5 linked regions of the Homo sapiens genome follow. The protein of the gene in region 2 purifies or fractionates together with the protein of the main gene of each other region. This does not show direct contact. Each region holds a gene or a part of one and is shown on either strand. Other genes may lie near its edges. The genes, in order: HIP1R, CEP41, URM1, WARS1 and RIC8B.

Region 1 (4,251 bases), on a different chromosome or scaffold from region 2:
CCTCCAGCCCCACGGCCCCTGCGGCCGGGCCAGCTGGGCCTGCATCTGCAGGTGGCACCATGGGCAGTGTTTTCCTCGCTTCAAGGGAAGTGAGTCCGGGCAGTGGTTCTGGGTTGGATAACGCCCTGGTCAGGCCTCCCTGTGGGTACCCGGTCCAGGGCCTGCCCTGCTCCTATGTCCCTGCCCAGGCAGACGAGCACCCCACAGTGCTCCAGAGAGAACCAGGCCAAGGCCCTCTGCCCACCAGGGACATCTCTAACTCCTGAGGTCTTGCAGTGCATCCAGATTGCAGGCCCCCCAGGGCTCTCAGGCCTTACTGTGTGTGTGCTCAAAATGCAGACCTCCAGTCCTGATTCTTCAGCAGCAGGTCTGGGGGAGCCCAGGAACCTGCGCCCTGCCACAGGCTCTCTAACCACCGAGGTGCCCGGGCTGTGGTCTTGCCACATTTCCCAACTCGTGAGGACTAAAGGGCCCGGGTGACTTCGACGCTGGAGGGCCCACTGGTTATGCGTGTGGAGCGCCCTGGGCCAGGCCCTCAAAGGCAGGCAGCATCTCCCCGTGCTGCCCCTCCCACTGTCGCCCCTGGGAAAACCCAGCCACCCGCAGGGAACTGCCCACAGGGAGCCACCCTTCGCTCAGCCCCACACGCTCAGGAAAGCCCCGAATGCCAGGCAGGACCTAGAATGGCTGGACCTACCCACAGGTCTCCAATCTCCCGGATGTTGCTGCGGTACCGCTGGCAGTCATGCAGCACCTGCAGCGCAGGGAATACGGGAGTGGGGGAGTGTCCAGGACCGTGTGGCAGGGCCCTGAGACACGCACTCCCCACCCGAGGCGGGAGGAACAGCCCGGAGCTACGGGGACAGGAACAGGGCCAGAGCCCGCATGTCCGCGGGACAGTGCCCCAGCTCCGGGGAGCAGAGGCAGCAGCTGCTACTCACATTGGGGTGCCCGTCTCGAAGGACCTTGTGGAGGACGTGGCAGAACTTCCAGCTGAGAATGGAGCTGCTGGGCAGCGGCAGCCCAATGGCGTAGGACCAGAAGGTGAAAGCCCCCTTCTCGTGGTGTGTGCCCAGAATGATGCCTGCAATGTCAAGGCCAAGTGTGGAAGCAGAGACTGGAGCACGGGGGCTCAGCAAACCCGGCTGAGAGAGGCCAGGGCCGCCGGAAGAGGGCCGGCCCCCAATCACGTGCCCATCAACCCCGGGTCACCAGAGCTCCAGTGTCCAGCCAAGGGGACAGGAGTTAGGGCAAGACAAGGAAATCATTGGGCCCAATGGGGGCGTTTTTGTGATGAGACTGAGATGGGAAGGAGCCAAGCTGCACAGGACCCTCCTCCCCGGGCTCAGTGAGGGAACTTGTGACCCCGGCACAGCTGACCGCAGGCCACCTGCAGCACTACGCTGCTCCCACATCCACACCCAACTCCTGGGTCCAAGAGCCGGCCAAGGATACGCCGGGCGTGCTTCTCCTTCACGGGGGCCTCCTGGGTGTTGATGGCTTTGCTGATGCTGATGGCCTGTGAGGGACAAAGGAGCAGTGTTTAGAGCCCCAGGCAGCCACCCCAGGAGACACCACCCCAAGGGGGAGAAGCACAATACTGAACAGGATTCTGCCTGGGTTCAAGGCCAGTGGAGCGATGGGGGAGACAGGAATCCCCTCAACCTAAGCTTCTGAAGGACTTCCCTGTGCCTGATCGGTGCAGCTGGAACTACAGTGAACACCAAGAGCTCCAGGAGTCAGGGGACAAGGACCAAAGCTGGGCTATGGCTCCGGGAGGCCATCCTGCCCAAAACCTGCACGACTTGACTCTCCTGGCAGATGTGGTGCCCTGAGCCCCAGGTCATGGCCCAGTGTGGTGTCCTCCGGCCCCATCTCCCCTTGGGGAAAAGCAGCTGAGACTGGAGCCCCCGGCTGGGGCCCACCTGGCCTTTGCGGCACCCCATGAAGGGTGCACATCACATTGTCCCCACTCTCCTGGGAGGCATTCCCAGGAAACTTAGGCAAAGCCCAGGGCCTGTGGCCCACTGCCCCATAGGCTGCCCCTCTCCTGGGTGGGGCCTCACCCTGTCAAACTGTGTCAAGCTCCTGCTGCCACCTGCAGCCCAGCCAGGGGCGGAGGAAGGCAGGAGTGGGGTCTGCAGCTGTCACCCGGAGCTGCGCAAGTGGCACCTTCACACTTGACCAAGGCCAGAATCTCAGCATCCCTCCCGCTCCACCTATGGCAGTCTCACCCCTCCCCCCCCGCCCCGGCTACTGCCTCCTTTTCCGAGTAGGCTTCCTGGACGTGACTGTGCTCTCGAGGAGGGCTCACGGCGGTACCATCACTACAACCCGGCCCTGGCTCCGTGGGGCATGGGGTATTTCTCATGCAGGGAACAGGTCTGCTAAACCTCTGTCCCCCACCACCAATGTTTGTGACCTGAGAAGAGCTGTCCAGGCCATGGGCGGGAGGGACAGGGCCTCGACAGATGCAGACACTGAGATGGGACACGCAGCCCCCAGCCTCAGCCAGGGCAGCTGGGCTCCTGAGCCACAGGCTGGCCTAAGCCAGGCAGGCCTTGAAGGGCAGGGAGCCGGCTTGCAGGACAGTGCAGCGCTCCTGCGCCTTCTCCCCAGACACCACTGCACTCTCCCACCCAACACCGGAGCAGAGGACATCCAATTAGGGTCTACTGTGGAATTTCCTCTGTGAGAAAAGCCAGCCCGGGAAGCTGGGGGGCCCTACCTGGTGGGACCTCAGATGGGAGCTAGGGGACTGCGGGGCTGGGCCAGGCAGCCTCTGGGCCGCCCCCGGCCCCTAGCACGATGCTGACCCCCTTTCACACACAGGGCCCATTGTACTGGACCCTCCCAGGCAGGTGTCCTGGGGCTGCCCTGAGCCCTGCTCCCTGTAGTCGGGGAGGAGCTGCGGTCCCATCTCAAGGAACCACGACCTGAGGAAATGCACAGAGGCTCTGGTGGGCCTGATCCTGAGGGCTGCCCAGCCAGTGGCCCCCAGGCCTCAGCTCCTTCCTTGAACAAACTCGTATCCACCAACTGTGAGAAGCCATGGCTGAGAGTGTCATGCCCCCAGAGGCAGAATATTGCTCACGACAGCAGCTATGATGATAAGGATCCTGAGTGCCCAGCCCCAGCCAGGCATGGGCAACTCGCCTCCCAGCAACAGCCCAGGGAAGTGGTGACTAACCCATTTTCCTGGTGAGGAAACTGAGGCACAGAAGGCTTATATACTTGTCTGTACAGCTAATAAGGATAAAGGCAGTGTTCAAAGCCAGGTCTGTCTGATTCCACAACCTGTGTCCTTAGTGACTCTGAACAGCCCCCAGGCAGTTCCTCCCGTGGGGAGGGGCTCCCAGGGCAGGAGGCAGGGGCTGTGACTTTCCCCAGCTCACTGGCAAGCAGCTGTCCTGTCACAAGCCAGGCGTGTCCGTCTCCGGGGTGTGTAACCCCATCCCCAGCTGCCGACACCTGAGCTGCCACCTGGTTCGGAAGATTCCTGGCAAGAAGGGTGGAGGCGAAGTGACTGGTGCAGACCTGGCACCAGAGAGGCTGTAGACACAGAGATGCGGGGGTTTCTCCTGACACTGAGGAAACCCCGGGATGGGGCTGAGATAGGGACCCTAGAAGCAGAGAACACATTCTGGGGGAATGGGCTGCCCTCTCCTCTTTGCGAGGAAAGACACAGTGAGGCCAAGGTGCAGCCACCCGTGTCCCCAGGCCCTAGGCTCCAGATGCCCACTCAGCAGAGCTCCAGCTCCCCGCACCCGGCACCCTCACACCCTCCTGCAGCCGCCCTGTTGAAATCTGCACCTTCTGGATGGATGGTCTCTGAGGGCCGGGCACCCTCAGACAGTGGAGTGTTTCCTTATTTATCACCCTCTCCCCTCACCCAGCAGTCAGCAACACGAGGGGAAGCAGATCGGCCTATAGGTGCTGCTGAACCCCCAGCTCCTCAACAGTGCCTGGCATGCAAATGACTTTCATGGCAGGAGGGAGGCCCCAGGAATGCAGTGTGACGGGGCATGCCTTGGGCACATGGCATGGTCTCCTGTGCGCCTGGGCCTCAGTGCTGCCTGCTCCCCGCGCTGGCGGCAGGGGACAGGATCCGTGGCAGCAGGGCCCTCCCGGGCAGGGTGCCGGCTGGCTCTGGGAACACAGCCCCGTTGTGTCTAGGATGGGCAGATGTGTGCACCAGGCTCAGAGCGCCACACAAGGAGGCACAGTGCTCGCACAGTGGGAGTCTGTGGC
Region 2 (4,251 bases):
TGAAATCAGAAGTCAAATTCCTGACCTACATCAACCTTAACAAACACATTCCTCTTCAATAAACAGCCACACACTGATTGCTGGGTACTTCAGGATAAAATAAAGACCTTAACTCTCTGTATTCTTTTCATGAGAGTACAACTAGGAGGTTTTATTTTCAACTTGGTATTTAAGAAAGGAGAAATGGAGCCTACCTGTCTTTCTAGCCTTATCTCCTACCCAGCGCCTACTCGTCCCTTAGACCACAGCCAGACTGGATGACTCGATTCCCCAAACATGCCTGGTGTGCTGTCCTCTCCATGCCTTTCACAGGCTGCTCCTCAGCCTGCAACAGCCTCATCTTTAACTTGTACCTGTTGAGATTCTACCCCACTTCAAGGCCCAGTTCCAGTGCCTTGAGGAAGCCTACCTCGGTCTTCTTTTTTTTTTTTTTGAGACAGAGTCTTGCTGTGTTGCCCAGGCTGGAGTGCAATGGCGTAGTCTCAGCTCACTGCAACCTCCGCCTCCTGGGTTCAAGCAATTCTCCTGCCTCAGCCTCCTGAGTAGCTGGGATTACAGGTGCACACCACCGTGCCTGGCTAATTTTTCTATTTTTTTTAGTAGAGACAGGGTTTCACCATGTTGGACAGGCTGGTCTTGAACTCCTGACCTCGTGATCTGCCCGCCTTGGCCTCCCAAAGTGCTGGGATTATGGGGGTGAGGCACTGGGCGTGAGGCACCGTGCCTGGCCGCCTACCTTGGTCTTCTAACTGGAAGTGTCTTTCCTTCCTTGGAACTCTCCCACAACATCCTGCATCTTTCCTGAAGGTACTTTTCAGTCCCTTAAGGGTACAATGAAGGCAGCAAGAAGACACTGGATGCTACTGGGCACACTTAGATTTGTAACTCAGGTCCCTTCCTTATTAGCTGTATCACTTTGAGGAGGCAGCTTAACCTCTGCAGCTTGGGCCTCTCATCTGTAAAGTGTACCTTCCTTCCAGAGTTTTTAAGAAGCTTAAGTAAGAAAATTCATGTGAATTCACCTTGCAATATACAGCCAACAAACGATGGTTTCCTTCCATTCCTCCATTTTAAAATTCTGCCACCTTAGTAATTTTGTGGTACTGTTATCATTCAGCCCACCCAACACACATACATGTGTGCACATGCACACATGTGACTGTCAATTTCATGTAAGCAGAGCTGTGTTTTGTTCACCTCTGCAGTCTCATAGTACTTAATGTGTAGGTACAAAGAATGCTAAAAATATTTGTTGAAAAAAGTAATTAGTATATTAAACACATCTAAAACATTTAAAACTGTAAGTGTTAGAGTCAGAAAACCAGATGGCTTTTTAAAATAAGAATTAACAACTAAAGTATCAGGTAGCATTTCCCTGAGAGTAACAATCTAATTACAAATAGATACATCAAAGTCCCAGTCCCTGGGAACAGACAGCAAATGTGTACAGGGTGAGTGTTTCAGTCAAATGGTCAGCCTGTTATTTTCCCCACACCCTCAATTCTCATTACCTTCCAGCCTTTGAATCTCCTCAGCTGTCACTTCCAGTGTTTGATCAGAGAGGGAAGCAACTTGGATGATCTGATAGAAAAAAGAATGAAATGTGTGGATGTTTGTTTGTTTTTAAACAGACGCAATTTTGTCTTTTACAAAAGACGAGGGAACAACAAACATCAAAGATCTGTTGTTTTAAGAAGCTGTCAGTGTCCTCAACTGAACGCTGAATCTCAGGCCTCCTTCCTTTTGTGTTGGTAATATACTGCAGATGATCATTTCAGAAGAAAAGCACACTTAGAACACTACATAAACTTAGAATGCTAAGAGGAAAATTTAGGACAAGAAACATGAATAAGAGTTTAAAACCACATCTGTATATATCGTGGTCCAAGCACTACACATTATTTCTTGAAAATGCAATACTGACCTAGCATAACATAGAATGGTATCAGCAATTATCCACGCAATGAAGAAGTAAATGTAATAACAAATACACTGATTACAGTGTTTTATACTTCTATACAGTATTCATTTTTAAAGCACTTTTCACAACTTAGCTCACAAGACCCAAGATTCAACTTGAGTTATGCCAGTGGAACTCTTGGAACTGGAAAGACACCTTCTCCATAATTTTCAAATAAAAGAAGAAAGTGACTTGCCCAAAATAACAAAACAGCTCTGGCAGGATGATTTGGAAAAGATCAGTCCAAGAAAAGGGGAAATCACTTGGTTTCCAGAGAAAAACGTTGAAACAATCCAGGATCCAGAATTTTAGATTCTAAATATTAAGTTAAATGTATAAGGAAAAAAACCCCTAACCACAAGTTTAATGAATTAAAAGTAGGGCAAACATTTACTTTATAGAATTCTTATCAAAGAAGAGAGAAACATTTCTCACCATCTTCATGTGAACACACACACCACATACCAATTAATCTTCCCATAGCTGAACGACATACAAAGAATCAGAAGAAACTCCTCTGCAAACTTTCCCTAGAGTTGAATTTAGAAATACATAAAGTGGCACAAATTAGACAGACTTTACTCCAGTGGAAAAATCAAGAAACTTACCAGCTGGGCAAAAGTTGTAACTTTTAGTCTCTTGAAAAGCTCATCTTTTTTGTATCTATAATCTGAAAAATATGGTAAGACAAGTATTTATCTATTTTGCTTTTTTAGAGCTATTCTTTCTAGTTGTCAAGTGACGTGGTCTTTCAAGTTATTTATATGCTTTTACATCTATTATCTCATTTGAGCCTCATGATATCATCAAAATTAGGTGTGGCAGGTAGTAGTATCATCTGTTCAGTTTGTTTCCCTTTGCTTTGTCATTAGGAAGCTTAAAGTTGAATTTATAAGCTACCTTTGGTCTAGTGACTACCCCTTGCCTTTATTTTATTAGTCTACCATTTTCCTTTAACTAAGCTGTCTCTACTTCGACCACATTGTACTCCACGCATTTTTGTAAGCCGCCTCAAATCCTTTTCAGAGTAAAGCAGGGAAGAAATGTCCGTGTTTTACAAATGAGGACAGAGACTCAGAGAGGCTGAGCTGCCCCAGCTCAAACAGCTGGTGAGACGTTCATGCCCCACTATTCTGACTCCAGCTTAAAAAGAAAGCAATATTATTCCTGCCATTACACACTATGCTGAAGCCACAGGACAACATTTCTAAGTGTATGCTGGGCACACAGCTGTGATTGGTTCTGATCATCTCTCAGCTTCTCTCCAACTTCACTCCAATAAAAATTAACCTACTTAGTTTCGCAAGATGAAAAAGTTCTGCAGTTCTGTTGTACAACAGTATGAAAATACTTAATGCCACTGACCTGTACACTTAAAAACCATTACGATGGTAGGTGTTATGTGTTCTTGTTTTTGTTGTTTACTACCATTTTATTTTATTTATTTTTATTTCTCTGTCGCCCAGGCTGGAGTGCAGTGGTGTGATCTCGGCTCTCTGCCACCTCCGCCTCTCAGGTTCGAGGGATTCTCCTGCTTCAGCCTCCCGAGTAGCTGGGATTACAGTTGCCCACCACCAGGCCTGGCTAATTTGTGTATTTTAGTAGAGACGGGGTTTCACCATGTTGGCCAGGCTGGTTTCGAGCTCCTGGCCTCAAGTGATCCACCCACCTCAACCTCCCAAAGTGCTGGGATTACAGGCGTGAGCCAAAGCGTCCGGCCCCACCATTTAAAAAAATAAAATAAAACCAACTTAGGCCAGGTTTGGTGGCTCATGCCTGTAATCCCAACACTCCAATTAATAATACAACTAATAATACAAAATACAACTAATAATACAAATCCCAACTAATAATACAAAAATTAGTTGGGCATGGTGGTGCACACCTGTAATCCCAACTACTCCAGAGGCTGAGGCATGAGAATCAATTGAACCTGGGAGGTGGAGATTGCAGTGAGCCAAGATTGCACTACCACATTCCAGCCTGGGTGAGAGTGAAACTGTGTCACAAAAAAAAAAACAAAAAAAAAACTTAAAACATCAATATTTATTCAGTGCTGTCTTGACAATTCTGAGCTATAACTCACATATAGGTACTTCTGCACTTGTGTTCATAATTCTTCCCATCACATTAAACAGTTATTAAAAACTAAGCCAGTTGCACTTTATCTATTATCTGTTCCATAGATACGTGTTAAAGGTTAGCTTCCTTAAACTGTTTTGAAGATGACAGTCAAATTCTGAATGGTTTTCAGTGTTGAACTCTGCCCGCCCTCATGCTTTCCTCCTCAC
Region 3 (4,251 bases), on a different chromosome or scaffold from region 2:
CCCTTTCTTTCTTAGAGACAGGTTCTTACTCTGTCGCCTATGCTGGAATGCAGCAGTGCAATCATAGCTCGCTGTAACCTTGAACTCCTGGGTTCAAGAGACCTTCCTGTTCAACCTCCCAAGTAGCTAGGACTACAGGTGCATGCCACCATATCAGGCTACTTTTTATATTAATATTTATGTTTATATTTAATTTTATTTTACTCTGTTTAGTCTCACTCTGTTGCCCAGGCTGCAGTGCAGTGGTGTGATCTCAGCTCACAGCAACCTCCGCCTCCCAGGTTCAAGTGATTCTCGTGCCTCAGCCTCCCGAGTAGCTGGGACTACAGACATGAGCCACCACATCTGGCTAAGTTTTGTATTTTTAGACAGAGGGTTTCACCATGTTGGCCAGGCTAGTCTCAAACTCTTGACCTCAGGTGATCCGCCCACCTTGGCCTCTCAAAGTGCTGGAATTACAGTCATGAGCCACCGCGCCTGGCCCATATCAGGTTAATCTTTAAATTTTTTGTAGAGATGGAGTCTTGTTATGTTACCCAGGCTGATCTCAAACTCCTGGCCTAAAGCAATCCTCCCACTTCAGCCTCCCAAAGCACTGGGATTACAGGCACAAGCCACTCTGCCCAGACCCAGTGACCAATTCCTAAATATGACTTCTAATGTGGCAAGGTAGGATATAATTTTTACTAATAATCAAGTACCGGCTAGGTGTGGTGGCTCACACCTGGAATCCTAGCACTGTGGGAGGCCAAGGCGAGATGACTGCTTGAGGCCAGGAGTTTGAGATGAGCCTCAGTGAAATAGAGCCTTGGTGACATAGCAAGACCCTGTCTCTATGTAATTATTATTATCATTAGGCACCCGGGAAATTATTATCTATTTATTTTTGAGACAAGGTCTTGCTTTGTCACCCAGCATGGAGTTCAGTGGCACAATCACAGCTCACTGCAGGCTTGACCTCCTAGGCTTAAGCAATCCTCCCACATCAGACCCCCAAGCAGCTGGGACTACAGGTGCATGGCATCACACTCAGCTAATTTTGTACTTTTTGTAGAGATGGGATTTCGCCATGTTGCTCAGACTGGTCTCGAACTCTTGAGCTCAAGTAATCTCCCTGCCTTGGCCTCCCAAAGTGCTGAAATCAGAAGCATGAGTCACTGTGCCTGGCCTATTTTTATTATTTTATTTTACTTTTTAAAAAAATTTATTTATTGAGACAGAGTCTCGCTCTGTCGCCCAGGCTGGAGTGCAGTAGTGCGATCTTGGCTCACTGCAACCTTCGCCTCCTGGGTTTAGGCAATCCTCTGCCTCAGCTTCCAGAGTAGCTGAGATTACAGGCACGTGCTACCACACCTGGCTAATTTTTGTATTTTTTTTTAATAGAGACAGGGTTTCACCATTGTGGCCAGGCTGGTCTTGAACTCCTGACCTCGTGATCCACCTGCCTCAGCCTCCCGAAGTGTTGGGATTACAGGCGTGAGCCACCGTGCCTGGCCTATTTATTTATTTTTTGAGACAAGGTCTCACTCTGTCACCCAGGCTGGAGTGCAGTAGCGTGATCTCAGCTTGATACAACCTTAACCTCCTGGGTTCAAGCAAACCTCCCACATCAGCCCCCAGGTAGCTGGGACCACAGGCACGTGTCACCACACCTGCCTAATTTTATTTTTATTTTTTGTAGAGACAGGGTCTCCCTATGTCGTCCAGGCTGGTCTTGACCTCCTGGGCTCAAGCAATCCTCCCAAAGTGCTGGGATTAGAGTTGTGAGTCATCATGCCTGGCTCTGTCTCTAATTATTTAAAAAGAAAAAAAAAAAATCAAGTACCCAAATTTGCCGACTCTTGTTTTTACTCCTCTGCCTTCTAGAGAGGCAGCTTACCACACAGGTGCAGAACACAGCCTTTGGAGCTGCCGGCCCCGATGTGAAGCCCAGGCTCCACCTCTCCCTATGTTGAGACCTTAGATGTGTGACTCAATCTTCTTTTTTCTTTGTTATTAAAATACTTTGGGGGCCAGACACAGTGGCTCACACCTGTAACTCTAGCACTTTGGGAGGCTGAGAGGCGAGGGAGGATTGCTTAAGTCCAGGAGTTCAAGAGCAGCCTGGGCAACATGGCAACACCTTGTGTCTACAAAAACTACAAAAATTAGGTGGGCATGGTGGTGTGCGCCTGTAGTCCCAGCTACTTGGGAGGCTGAGGTGGGAGGATCACCTGAACCTGGGAGGTTGAGGCTGCAGTTAGCCAAGGTCATGCCACTGTACTGCAGCCTGGGCGACACAGTGAGACCCTATCTCAAAACTAATAATAATTTAAAAATATTTTATAACATAGTGAGGTCTCACTCTATTGCCCAGGCTGGTCTTGAACTCCTGGGCTCAAGCAATCCTTCTGCCTCAGCCTCCCAAAGTGCTGGGATTATAGGTGTGGGCCACCATGCCTGGCCTTGACTCAATCTTAAGCTTCAGTCTTTCCATCTGGAAAAATGTTGGGGAGCCACTGTGAGGCACTCTGGAGACCCTGTGCATCTAGGGGTTTCCTCTGGCCAGATGATGGTTTGAATGCTCCTGCCCATGCCACCTGCTGCTGACCTGGTGGGTACATCACAGTGCTGGAGGCTGAGAGAGTCCATGAGGCCTGGCATCAACTAAGAACAACTGTTCACATCGCCTCACCATTTATAAGATGTTCCTCATCTCATTTCATCCTCAGGGAGTCCCAGGGAAGAAGGAAGGAGGTAGATATTATTTGCTCACTTTGATAGAAAAGCAGACTCAAGCCTAGAGAGGTTAAGCAACCAACTTGTCCAAGGTTAGAGAGGCAGGGGCTGAACTATAATTTCAGTCTAACTGATTCCTGCTTAGCACCAGCAGACTGGTCAGAAAAAAACAGGACTTCCCAAAGGTCAGAAAGCCTCTTGAGGGCAGAGTTTGGTTCATTTCTGTGTCCCAGCACCTGGCCAAGGGAAGGCGGGGACTGCAGAGATGATTGGAGCCAAGTCCAGAAGCTGAGGCTTCTGAGATGAGCGCCAGGGCTCTTTCAGCGCCCCATGCTGCTTCTCCCTCTGGGTCTCCCAATTCCCATCTCAGACTTCTTGTGGATCTTAACTGAAAAGGCCTCACCAGACTTTTGAAGAATGAGATGTCTTCCACCCCACCACCCTTTCCCAATTTCAGGGAACAGAGATGTCCTGAGACAGCCCGCTGGGAGGCAAAGGCAAGGCAAGCATTGTCATGGGGAAAACATGGGGCGACTGTCATCCAAACAAGGTCACGCTTTGTTGATGCAGAAATGTGGAGGGGGAGAGGAGGCCCATCTGTGGCCGCGCACAGGGCCATTTCAGCTGCAAGCCTGCACAGAGCCTCCATTTATTCCCTTCCAAGAGCCTCGTTTTCTCCTGGGTGGGGGGTTGGCACATGCAGCAGCTGGGGTGGGGGAGGGTGACAGGCAAGGGGCTCAGGAGTTGGGGGTCAGAGAAGAGGGATGGGAACTGAAGGCACTGGGACTTAGGCAAACAACCAAGACTGGCCAAACCTGGTGGTGCCAGGCTCAGAGGCCGAGGCTGTTTTTCCCTTTACAAGCGGATGAAGGGAGAACCAGTCTCGCTCAGAGAGTGACCTGTCACTGCTGAATTCACTGGCCCTCAAGGGAGGGGTTGGCATTTCTGCTGTCAGCACATCTGGAGTGGGGGAAGGTGCATGCCCAGCCTCAAGAGTGATTCAGGGAGGCAGACAAGGGGCCTGTTCTAGCCCAGGAGAGACCAAGGCCAGACTCTCTTATGTCTTATAAGATCTGCTATTCAAACTCAACTGACATATCTCCATCTTCCTTCAACCCCCCCAATTCTTGGTGGATGTGTTTGTAGATACCAGTGACAGGTATAGATATTCTCAAAACCACCTTCACCTTTTCTGATGTATCTTCATCTTTTAATCTTCTGTATATACACATACATATACACGTATATATATATTTTGTTTATTTACTTCCTCTCCACCTGCTGGGCTGCAAGCTCTGCCTAAAACAGGGCCTGGCACATGGTAGACACTCAACAAATATCTGCTAAAGGAAAGGAAATGCCCATTTCTCCCAGTTCTTCTCTGACCTCAATGACATTCCCTCCTTTTGCCAATACCTCCCCAACTTGGGAAGGAGGAAGAGGGGTGGGACGGAGAGAACTCCATATCTGGGCCTTTACAACATGGACCACAGGGACACAAAACACAACTATATTACATACTTTGAATCCTGC
Region 4 (4,251 bases), on a different chromosome or scaffold from region 2:
GATTACAGGCGCCCACCACCATGCCTGCCCAATTTTGTATTTTTAGTAGAGATGTGGTTTCACCATGTTGGTCAGGCTGGTCTCGAACTCCTGACCTCAAGTGATCCACCCGCCTCGGCCTCCCAAAGTGTTGGGATTACAGGTGTAAGCCACCGTGCCCGGCCATCAGTTGTATTTCTATATAGTAGCAATGAACAATCAAAATGAGATTAAGAAAATGCCATTTAGAATAGCATTAAAAAGATAAAATTCTAATGAATAAATCTAAGCAAAGAAGTGCAAAACCTATACACTGAAAATTACAAAACATCAATGAAAGAAATCAAAGAAGTGAAAAGACATCCCATGTTCATGGATTAGATGAATTAATATTTTAAGATGGCAATACTCCACAAATGAATCTACAGATTCAGTGCAATCCCTATCAAAATCCTAGCTGCTGCTTTTGCAGAAATGGAAAAGCTGAAATTCATATGGAAATGCAAGGGGCCCAGAATACCTAAACAATCTTGAAAAAGAACCATGTTTGAGTACTCACATTTTCTTATTTTTTTTTGAGACGGAGTCTCACTGCCACCCAGGCTGGAGTGCAGTGGCGCGATCTCGGCTCACTGCAAGCTCCGCCTCCCGGGTTCATGCCATTCTCCTGCCTCAGCCTCCCGAGTAGCTGGGACTACAGGCGCCCATCACCACACCTGGCTAATTTTTTGTATTTTTAGTAGAGATGGGGTTTCACCGTGTTAGCCAGGATGGTCTCAATCTCCTGACCTCGTGATCCGCCTGCCTTGGCCTCCCAAAGTGCTGGGATTACAGACATGAGCCACTGCGCCCAGCCAAGAATAGTCTTTTCAAAAAACAGTGCTGGGACAATTGGATACCCACAAGCAAAAGAATGAAGTTGGAGCTGTACCTCACAAATATACAAAAATTAACTCAAAAAGGATCAGAAACTGAAATGTAAGAGCTAAAACCACAAAACTCTGAGAAGAAACCATAGGTGTAAATCTTCACAACCTTCGATTAGTCAGTGGTTTCTCAGATATGACACCAAAAACACAATCAATCAAAGATAAAATAAACTGGACTTCATCAAAATTAAAAACTTTCATACTTCAAAGGACTATCAGTAGAGTGAAGAGACAACCTATATAATGGGAGCAAATATTTGCAAGTAATATTTGAATAAGAAACTAGTATCCAGAATATAGAAAGAACTATTATAACTAACAATAAAAAGACAACCCAATTAAAAAGTAGGCAAAGGATCTGAATAGACATTTCTCTAAAGATATAAAAATTGTTAATAAGCACATGAAAAGATTCTCAACATCCTTGTCATTAGGGAAATACAATCAAAACCACAATGAAATACTACTTCACACCTATTAGGATGGCTATAAAACACAACAACATGGAAAATAACAAGAGTGGGTGAAGATGTGGAGAAATGGGAAGCTTCCTATGTTGCTGGTGGGAAAGTAAAATGATACAGTTGCTGTAGAAAAGTCTGTCAGTTCCTCAAAGAGTTAAACATGGAATTACTATATAAGCCATTAATTCTATTTCGAGGTATATGCCCAAGAGAATTGAAAACATATATCCACCCAAAAACTTGTATACAAATGGTCAGAGCAGCATTGTTGATAACCAAAAAGTGAAAATAACTCAAACGTCCATCAACTAATGAATGAATAAACAAAATGTGAGGTATATCCATTCAATGGAATATTATTTGGCAATAAAAAGGAATCCAGTATGGATACATGCTACAACATGGAGGAACCTTGAAAATGTTATGCCAAGTAAAAGAAGCCAGACACAAAAGGCCACATGTTACATGATCCCATTTATATAAAATGCCTAAATCTAGATATAGAGAAAGCAGACTAATGGTTGCCAGTGGGGAGGGAGAAATGGGGGATGACTGTTAACCCATTTATGCCTACCTACTGTTCCAAAATTGGAATGCTAAACTTGTGGGAGTTATTGATATCTTACTGCTCAAGGTGATTGCCAAGGTCTGATTTTTCACAAAAAATTTTTACAACTTCTGGCATAAATGGGTTAATGGGTAGAAGTTTCCTTTTGGGGTGATGAAATGTTTTGGAATTAGATAGTCTTGATGGTCTCACAACCTTGTGAATATACTAAAACCCACTTAACTGTACATTTAAAAAAATAAGTTTTATAGTATGTGAATTAAGGAAAATTTTTTATTATATTCCACCCAGAAAGTGGGTTGAGCAAGGCCTGGAGTTCTTTGCAGGTAGAATTTGAAGTGTTTGGGCAGACTGCTGGGCTCTGTCCTGGGGTTGTTCTCCTGTAAGCGTGAAGTGCCAGTAGAACAGAACAACCCTACATCAGATCATAAATTCCATGGACACAGCTTCAAAAAGGGGGCTGCCTCAGCCCAGATAACTGTAGGTTGGGAGAGGCAGAAACTCTTTTGGAACCTGCCCATATCTTGACGTTATCTGCGTGGAATTTACGGCCTAAGGTACAGATAATCTGTTCCATGCATTCTCTGTTGGTTTGTCTGTTGGTATTGTTTATGAGCAAGTCAATACAATAGGAGGAAGAGGGTTTGGAATTTCAGGAAGCCTACTGTTTGTCATGTGGGAAATGCTGATCTTGGACATATTATTCTCTTTTGTTTTCATGACATTTTATAATTTCTTTACAGCCTGTAATCTGGGAAGAATCTCACCTGCTATTAATATGATTCCCACCTTGTGAGGTGGGCAGTCTACAAATGAAAAAACTAAGAGCCTGAGGGTGATGGACAAGCATGATCCCACAGTGGGTTACTGACAGGACAGAGGATGGATCTCAGTCTTACCACAGCTGGCCATCACTTTTCCCACAGTACCAGGTGGCTTATGAAGAGAGTGTCTTACGATTTTTTTGAACTAAAAGAAGAGGACAGGTGAGAAGGCCTGTGGTGAAGAGCCCCTGACCTGTGTGAGAAGAAGATGCCTCTGCGCAGGAAGTGGTGTGGTCTTTGGCCGGTGGCTCTCTCTATTCGGTTTATTAGCTCTTTGTCAATTTTACTACTTCCAAACCGAACTGGAAAAAAAGAAAAGATGACTTTCTTAGGTGGCAGGAGGTTTAGTGATCAGATATTACTGAAATGAAGATGAAAAGTGAGTGATCCATGCACAATCTTAATGAACACAAACCTCTTTAGGCCTTCTGCTAAAGGTCCTTACCCCCAACATGAAGTAAAAGGTCTTTGGATTAAAACAACAGCTGAGATCAACACAACCAACAAAACAGGAAATAAATTACAACACAAAATGCTGTTTTGCCTGAGACTGGGTTCTGATGGGAAACATATTCAGAATGCAGTCCAGCTAGCAACTTTTGACAACAAAATATAAACATATACATATATAAATAGGTATATATATATATATTTGTTTATTAAGGTAAAATTTATATTCATTGACAACCATGATTTCTCACATTCTTTATTTGTTGAACTGAATTAATGTCGGTCTTCAAGTGAATTTTCCCTCATTGATAGTCTATACTGAAATCATGGAAAATGGCTTTGACTTAGATGAAAACATTTCAGTTCTGTTTCTTCTCTGATAATTAGCAATGATCTCAGAGTAAAGACTTCAATGGAATGGCAACAGTCTTTCCTGAGCAGGAAGGCCCTCAAGGAAGGGCATGACAGTAAGAACTTGCCCGATGTGAGAAGTCACTGCTCTTAAGCTGACTTCCAGCCTTCTAGGTCCATAGTCAGTATCACTGGAGGTGAAACCTAAGTAATCTATGATTGACTTGTAGCCACTAAATGTTATAAATGGCCATTTCAATAGACCTTTCCCAAGTTCTGAAGTGCTCAAAAAAAGGGAAAACCTTCTATTAAGCTGTCTACTATAGATCATTATTTTGAAATATATTTTATATTGTTATTTTATTTTAAAATAATCCTTTGGGAATATAATGCACAACCAAAAGATTTTAGTATCCATTTTTTCTTGGCATTGAAGCTTCACTGAATTTATGATTAATTCAAAATTTAAAAACATCAATGGAATCAACTCAATGGGACCACTTCTAAAAGTTGCAGCTTTTTCTGGGAAGAAAGCAGAGGACGTACCAATGAGCTTATCGTAGTCTATGCCTTTTGCACTGCTTGTCTGTACTGTCCATGGGTCCACAAAATCCTCTTCAGCTTCTGTGGCATCTGGGCCATGATTACTGGTAGGTGCTGGGTTCCCTGGAGGACAGTCAGCCTTG
Region 5 (4,251 bases), on a different chromosome or scaffold from region 2:
GATTCACAGAGGACTAGATTTTAGATTGCCTTTCCTCTCCCACAACTGACAAGGCTTTAATCAGGGCATTAAGGAGTTCTAAATAGGTCTTGCTTTTGAATCTGCATATCAGGAGGGGGCTGGGAGCATGAGCGGGAGGATGTCATGTCTCAGTGATTAATGATCTCTAGGAAGCTGAAAAGGGGAGTGTAATATACACAGTATTTCTACCCCCTGGAGTAGGAATGCAAACACTATTGTGCAGATCTGTGCATAGTCACTGACTTCCTGGTAGCTGGAGAATTTCATACACTCTTCTACCACAAATAAAACTGTCAGAGAAGTGACAGAGCTCAAAAAGCTGGCCTTCCTTACTTAAAAAGAATAGCTCAAACACAGTGAGCCAGAAAAATTAATTTTGTAGTTGTTTGGAAACCAAGTTGTTAAATAAGAAATAAGAAAATGGGAACTTTTCTTGAAAAGCCTAAAACCTCCAAATATTTGTTGAATCAAACTCTACATTTGGTTTCTTAAATTTACTGAATTCCTGGAAACTGCTTACTTTAAACGAATTTAAAGGGGAAACATTCCTTTGTAATGAAATGACCCATCTGAAACTTTTCAATCTGGTCTCTGGTAGGTTCAGAGCATCATACGGTCAGTGTATTTAAGAGCCTATTGCCTGATGTTTAGGGAAAAAATCATAACATTTCAGAATGGCTTGTATACAGTTTTTGAAAATAATTCTAAGGTAGAGTTATTTCCCCCCTTTTATTCTCAATGAATCTATGGTATTATTTAGTAACAATTTCTAAGTGCTTAAGATAGAAGCAAAACGTTCTGAACTATAGATAAGATAAACTACAGATATTTGCAAAAAAAAGTTTTAAGAGAAAGTTTTGGGGAAAGCTTATATTTCAGCCACCTTTGATTATTTACCAATAACCAAATATAGAGATTTTGTGCATAACACCAGTAGCAGCAGCAGTATTTGGTTTTAGTGAGGGCAATCAAATAACTTGTATTTTACTAGGAACCATTTATTCATATGACTTGTTAAATTATTTTTTGCTCTTGATTCATTTTTTTGATGCCCTATACATTACCACTTTCTGTTCTGCATTGTCTAACTTTTCAACTGACTTGTTACTGGTTTTTATTTTTCCATAATATAAAAAGAAAGGAAATATTCATTCTTGGGGAAGTGGAGCACAATTCAGGGTAGAGGAAAGAAAAATTTTTGTATTTCTATTTCTTTGTTTTTCTGTTTGTTTTGCTTTATTTTTTAGGGTGTCACTATAATCTAAAGTAGAAGGAGCTACTGGTCTAAATTAAGATAGTATCAGATAGATTAAGCTCTAAATTTGGTTTCCAAGTGGTTGGACTTTTAAATTGCATTTGCAGGAGTTTATTTTTAGTCAGGATGTGGTTATTTTTAGATCTGCTTCTCTGTCACTAGGAAATAAAATGCCTGTCTTTCCATTGTTGATCAGGAAGTTCTAAGGCACAGGCATATAAGAGCCAGTTAGCCCAGAACACCACCACTCCTTTTAGATGAAAGAATATGAAATAACTCATGGAAGAAAATATGTTTGTTGAGAACATATCTAATTTTGAAATTGTTAGTGTCATTTTAATCTTTTGTACACTGAACAACAGAACAAGGTTTTTAGGGAATGCCAAAAATATAAGGTTTGGGTTCCCCCTACTGGTGTGCATCCCAGTCTCGTGTATTCATTAATACACAGCTGAAAGGCCTAGGGGCTAGAGATTAGAAATAGCTATATTAACTTCATTTAGAGACCTGATGATAAGAAAGAGAGAAAAAACTCCATTTCCCTTTTTCTGCATATGTCTTACAAAAATTGGGATGATTTTTAAATTGTATTTTCTACATTTAGAAAGAATAAAACTTAATTCTACCATATTTGGTTTATTGTTGTTGCTACTGATAAGCTGCTTATTTTCAGTGTTTCTCAAATGCTTTATGTTGTAATCTAAGGAATAATAAAACACCAGTGGATCCACAAAAGGATTTAAAATCCCAGGGAAGAAATGCAAAGCTAGCATTGTTGCCATAATAAAATTAAGGAGCTGGCATTAAAGCTCACTAATTCCTATTTTAGCATTTCAGAAAGTGACATGACATCATGTGATTGTGTCTGTCTATTCAACATTTGTTTTTTTTCTAATTTGTACAACATATATTTGAAACAGTTTTTTATTTCCTATCTCATAGTAAGTGTCAAGTGTCCATAATGGCTCATTTTTGGAAAAGAAATATTTTAATTGACTCTTAAAAGTCACTTTTGAACTTCTTATTATGTTTGCATTTTAAAGGACTATTCAATCAAGTTAAAATATTGTATTTTTTTAATTGCTTTTCAGCAATGCAGTCAACCTTTTAAGCAATGTTCCAGTCTCTTGTTTGGATGTTCTCATTTGTCCGTTAACCCATGAAGAAACAGCCCAAGAGGCAACGACTCTAGATGAACTGCCCAGTAATAAAACAGCTGAGAAAGAAACAGTTTTGAAAAACAATACCATGGTATACAATGGTATGAATATGGAGGCCATTCATGTTTTACTGAATTTTATGGAGAAGAGAATAGACAAGGTAAGGCTGATAAAATGGAAGCCCTGGGAAGATGCTTCCAAAGAATGTAAATGTGCCATACATACAGACACACATCACAGAGCATGATTTTTAAATCTAAGCTTTTTTTCTGACTGATGTGCTGCATAATTGTTTTTACTTTGGAAAGCAGTTTATTACAATATATGATAAATTGCTGAAGCCATGTTAATTTATTTGTTTAATGCTGAAAATTATGTTCATGCAACACCAAAATTATGACTAGTGCTTGAAAACAAAGGAAAAAGTAATTACTGTTCCATTTTGTTACTTTGTGAGTCCTAGAAATAAAAAATATCCCCCCAAAAACTTGCTAAATACTCTTCATAATACCTAAAAGACATCTTCCCAAAAAAAAGAAAAAAGAAGACCTTGTCAATTTCCCATTTGTTGTGAGCTGTTTATACATTCTCTGGTCTATCACTCACTTTGTCAGGTATCTGTATTAAAAGGCAGCAAGGTAGCATAGTCCAGTCACCAAAATTTTGCTTCATTCAAGCCCTTTGGCTAAGCCCATGGGAATCCTAGAAAATGTAGGAACATCCAGGAAGGACCAAAAAAGGCAATAGTAAACATGAAGATGATAAAATGGAAATGTTTTTAGGAAAAGAATTTTTAAAATAGTTTGTAAGCTTAGGTAACATAAGATGTCCCCACCTCGTGGATCACGAGGTCAGGAGATCGAGACCATCCTGGCTAACATGGTGAAACCCCATCTCTACTAAAAGTACAAAAAATTAGCCAGGTGTGGTGGTGGGCACCTGTAGTCCCAGCTACTCAGGAGGCTGAGGCAGGAGAATGGCGTGAACCCGGGAGGTGGAGCTTGCAGTGAGCCGAGATTGCGCCGCTGCACTCCAGCCTGGGCAACAGAGGGAGACTCCCTCTCCCAAAAAAAAAAAAAAAAAAAAAGTCCCCACCTCAAAAACAAATTGATATCCTCAGTTACATGAAGGAAAGTAATACTGTTAGAAACAAAACTAACGTATTTCAAAAACATATGGTTTTTTTTTTTATAGGGAAGCAGCTATAGAGAGGGTCTAACTCCAGTTCTCAGCTTATTAACCGAATGTTCCCGAGCCCATCGAAACATCCGAAAATTTCTCAAAGATCAGGTAACTGCTTAATGCATATTACATTGCAAAGTTAGTCTTTTTATGTGCATTTTAAACATAGAATTAATTGAATTTTCTCACAATGATTTTGTTTCAGATAATCAGAAACTCAGTCTTAATCTTTGAAATCTTCTTAATCAAGAAGTGTGTATTTTTTGAGTCATTCATTCAGCAAATGCTACCGAGATCTGCTGTGTGTGCTGTGTTTTGGGCATTGAACAACAGATGAAGTCTTTCCCCTTGGGAAGTTTATTTTGTAGAGAGGGGGACAAAAAGTAAACAAATTTAAAATATAATGGCAGGTGGTGATAAGCATTCTGAAGAAAGGTAAAGCATTTTAAGAGAGAGGAGACACTTTAAGGGAACAAGGGAGGACCTCTCTGAGATGACATTTGAACAGAAAGGTGGAAAAGTAAGAGTATCTCTGAGAATGATTGGAAAGGAATGTCCCTGAGAGAACAAGTTCACAATCCCTGAGACAAGAGGATGCTTTGGTACACTTAAGGAAAAGCAAGAAGGCCTGTG

What was found.
Region 1: the proteins of CEP41 (region 2) and HIP1R fractionate together in Homo sapiens (co-fractionation; one large-scale study listed by BioGRID). This does not show direct contact.
Region 3: the proteins of CEP41 (region 2) and URM1 purify together in Homo sapiens (affinity purification with mass spectrometry; one large-scale study listed by BioGRID and IntAct). This does not show direct contact.
Region 4: the proteins of CEP41 (region 2) and WARS1 fractionate together in Homo sapiens (co-fractionation; one large-scale study listed by BioGRID). This does not show direct contact.
Region 5: the proteins of CEP41 (region 2) and RIC8B purify together in Homo sapiens (affinity purification with mass spectrometry; one large-scale study listed by BioGRID and IntAct). This does not show direct contact.

The regions. Positions count from the first base shown.
Region 1 is NC_000012.12:122,845,299-122,849,549, reverse strand, and holds part of HIP1R (huntingtin-interacting protein 1-related protein), read right to left. Parts: intron 1,520-4,251; coding exon 1,456-1,519; intron 1,085-1,455; coding exon 942-1,084; intron 755-941; coding exon 698-754; intron 1-697. UniProt on the Homo sapiens protein: Component of clathrin-coated pits and vesicles, that may link the endocytic machinery to the actin cytoskeleton. Binds 3-phosphoinositides (via ENTH domain).
Region 2 is NC_000007.14:130,409,611-130,413,861, forward strand, and holds part of CEP41 (centrosomal protein of 41 kDa), read right to left. Parts: intron 2,631-4,251; coding exon 2,569-2,630; intron 1,582-2,568; coding exon 1,512-1,581; intron 1-1,511. UniProt on the Homo sapiens protein: Required during ciliogenesis for tubulin glutamylation in cilium. Probably acts by participating in the transport of TTLL6, a tubulin polyglutamylase, between the basal body and the cilium.
Region 3 is NC_000009.12:128,373,623-128,377,873, reverse strand, and holds part of URM1 (ubiquitin-related modifier 1), read right to left. Parts: intron 1-4,251. UniProt on the Homo sapiens protein: Acts as a sulfur carrier required for 2-thiolation of mcm(5)S(2)U at tRNA wobble positions of cytosolic tRNA(Lys), tRNA(Glu) and tRNA(Gln). Serves as sulfur donor in tRNA 2-thiolation reaction by being thiocarboxylated (-COSH) at its C-terminus by MOCS3.
Region 4 is NC_000014.9:100,357,597-100,361,847, forward strand, and holds part of WARS1 (tryptophan--tRNA ligase, cytoplasmic), read right to left. Parts: coding exon 4,112-4,251; intron 3,067-4,111; coding exon 2,958-3,066; intron 1-2,957. UniProt on the Homo sapiens protein: Catalyzes the attachment of tryptophan to tRNA(Trp) in a two-step reaction: tryptophan is first activated by ATP to form Trp-AMP and then transferred to the acceptor end of the tRNA(Trp).
Region 5 is NC_000012.12:106,840,222-106,844,472, forward strand, and holds part of RIC8B (chaperone Ric-8B), read left to right. Parts: intron 1-2,367; coding exon 2,368-2,596; intron 2,597-3,630; coding exon 3,631-3,726; intron 3,727-4,251.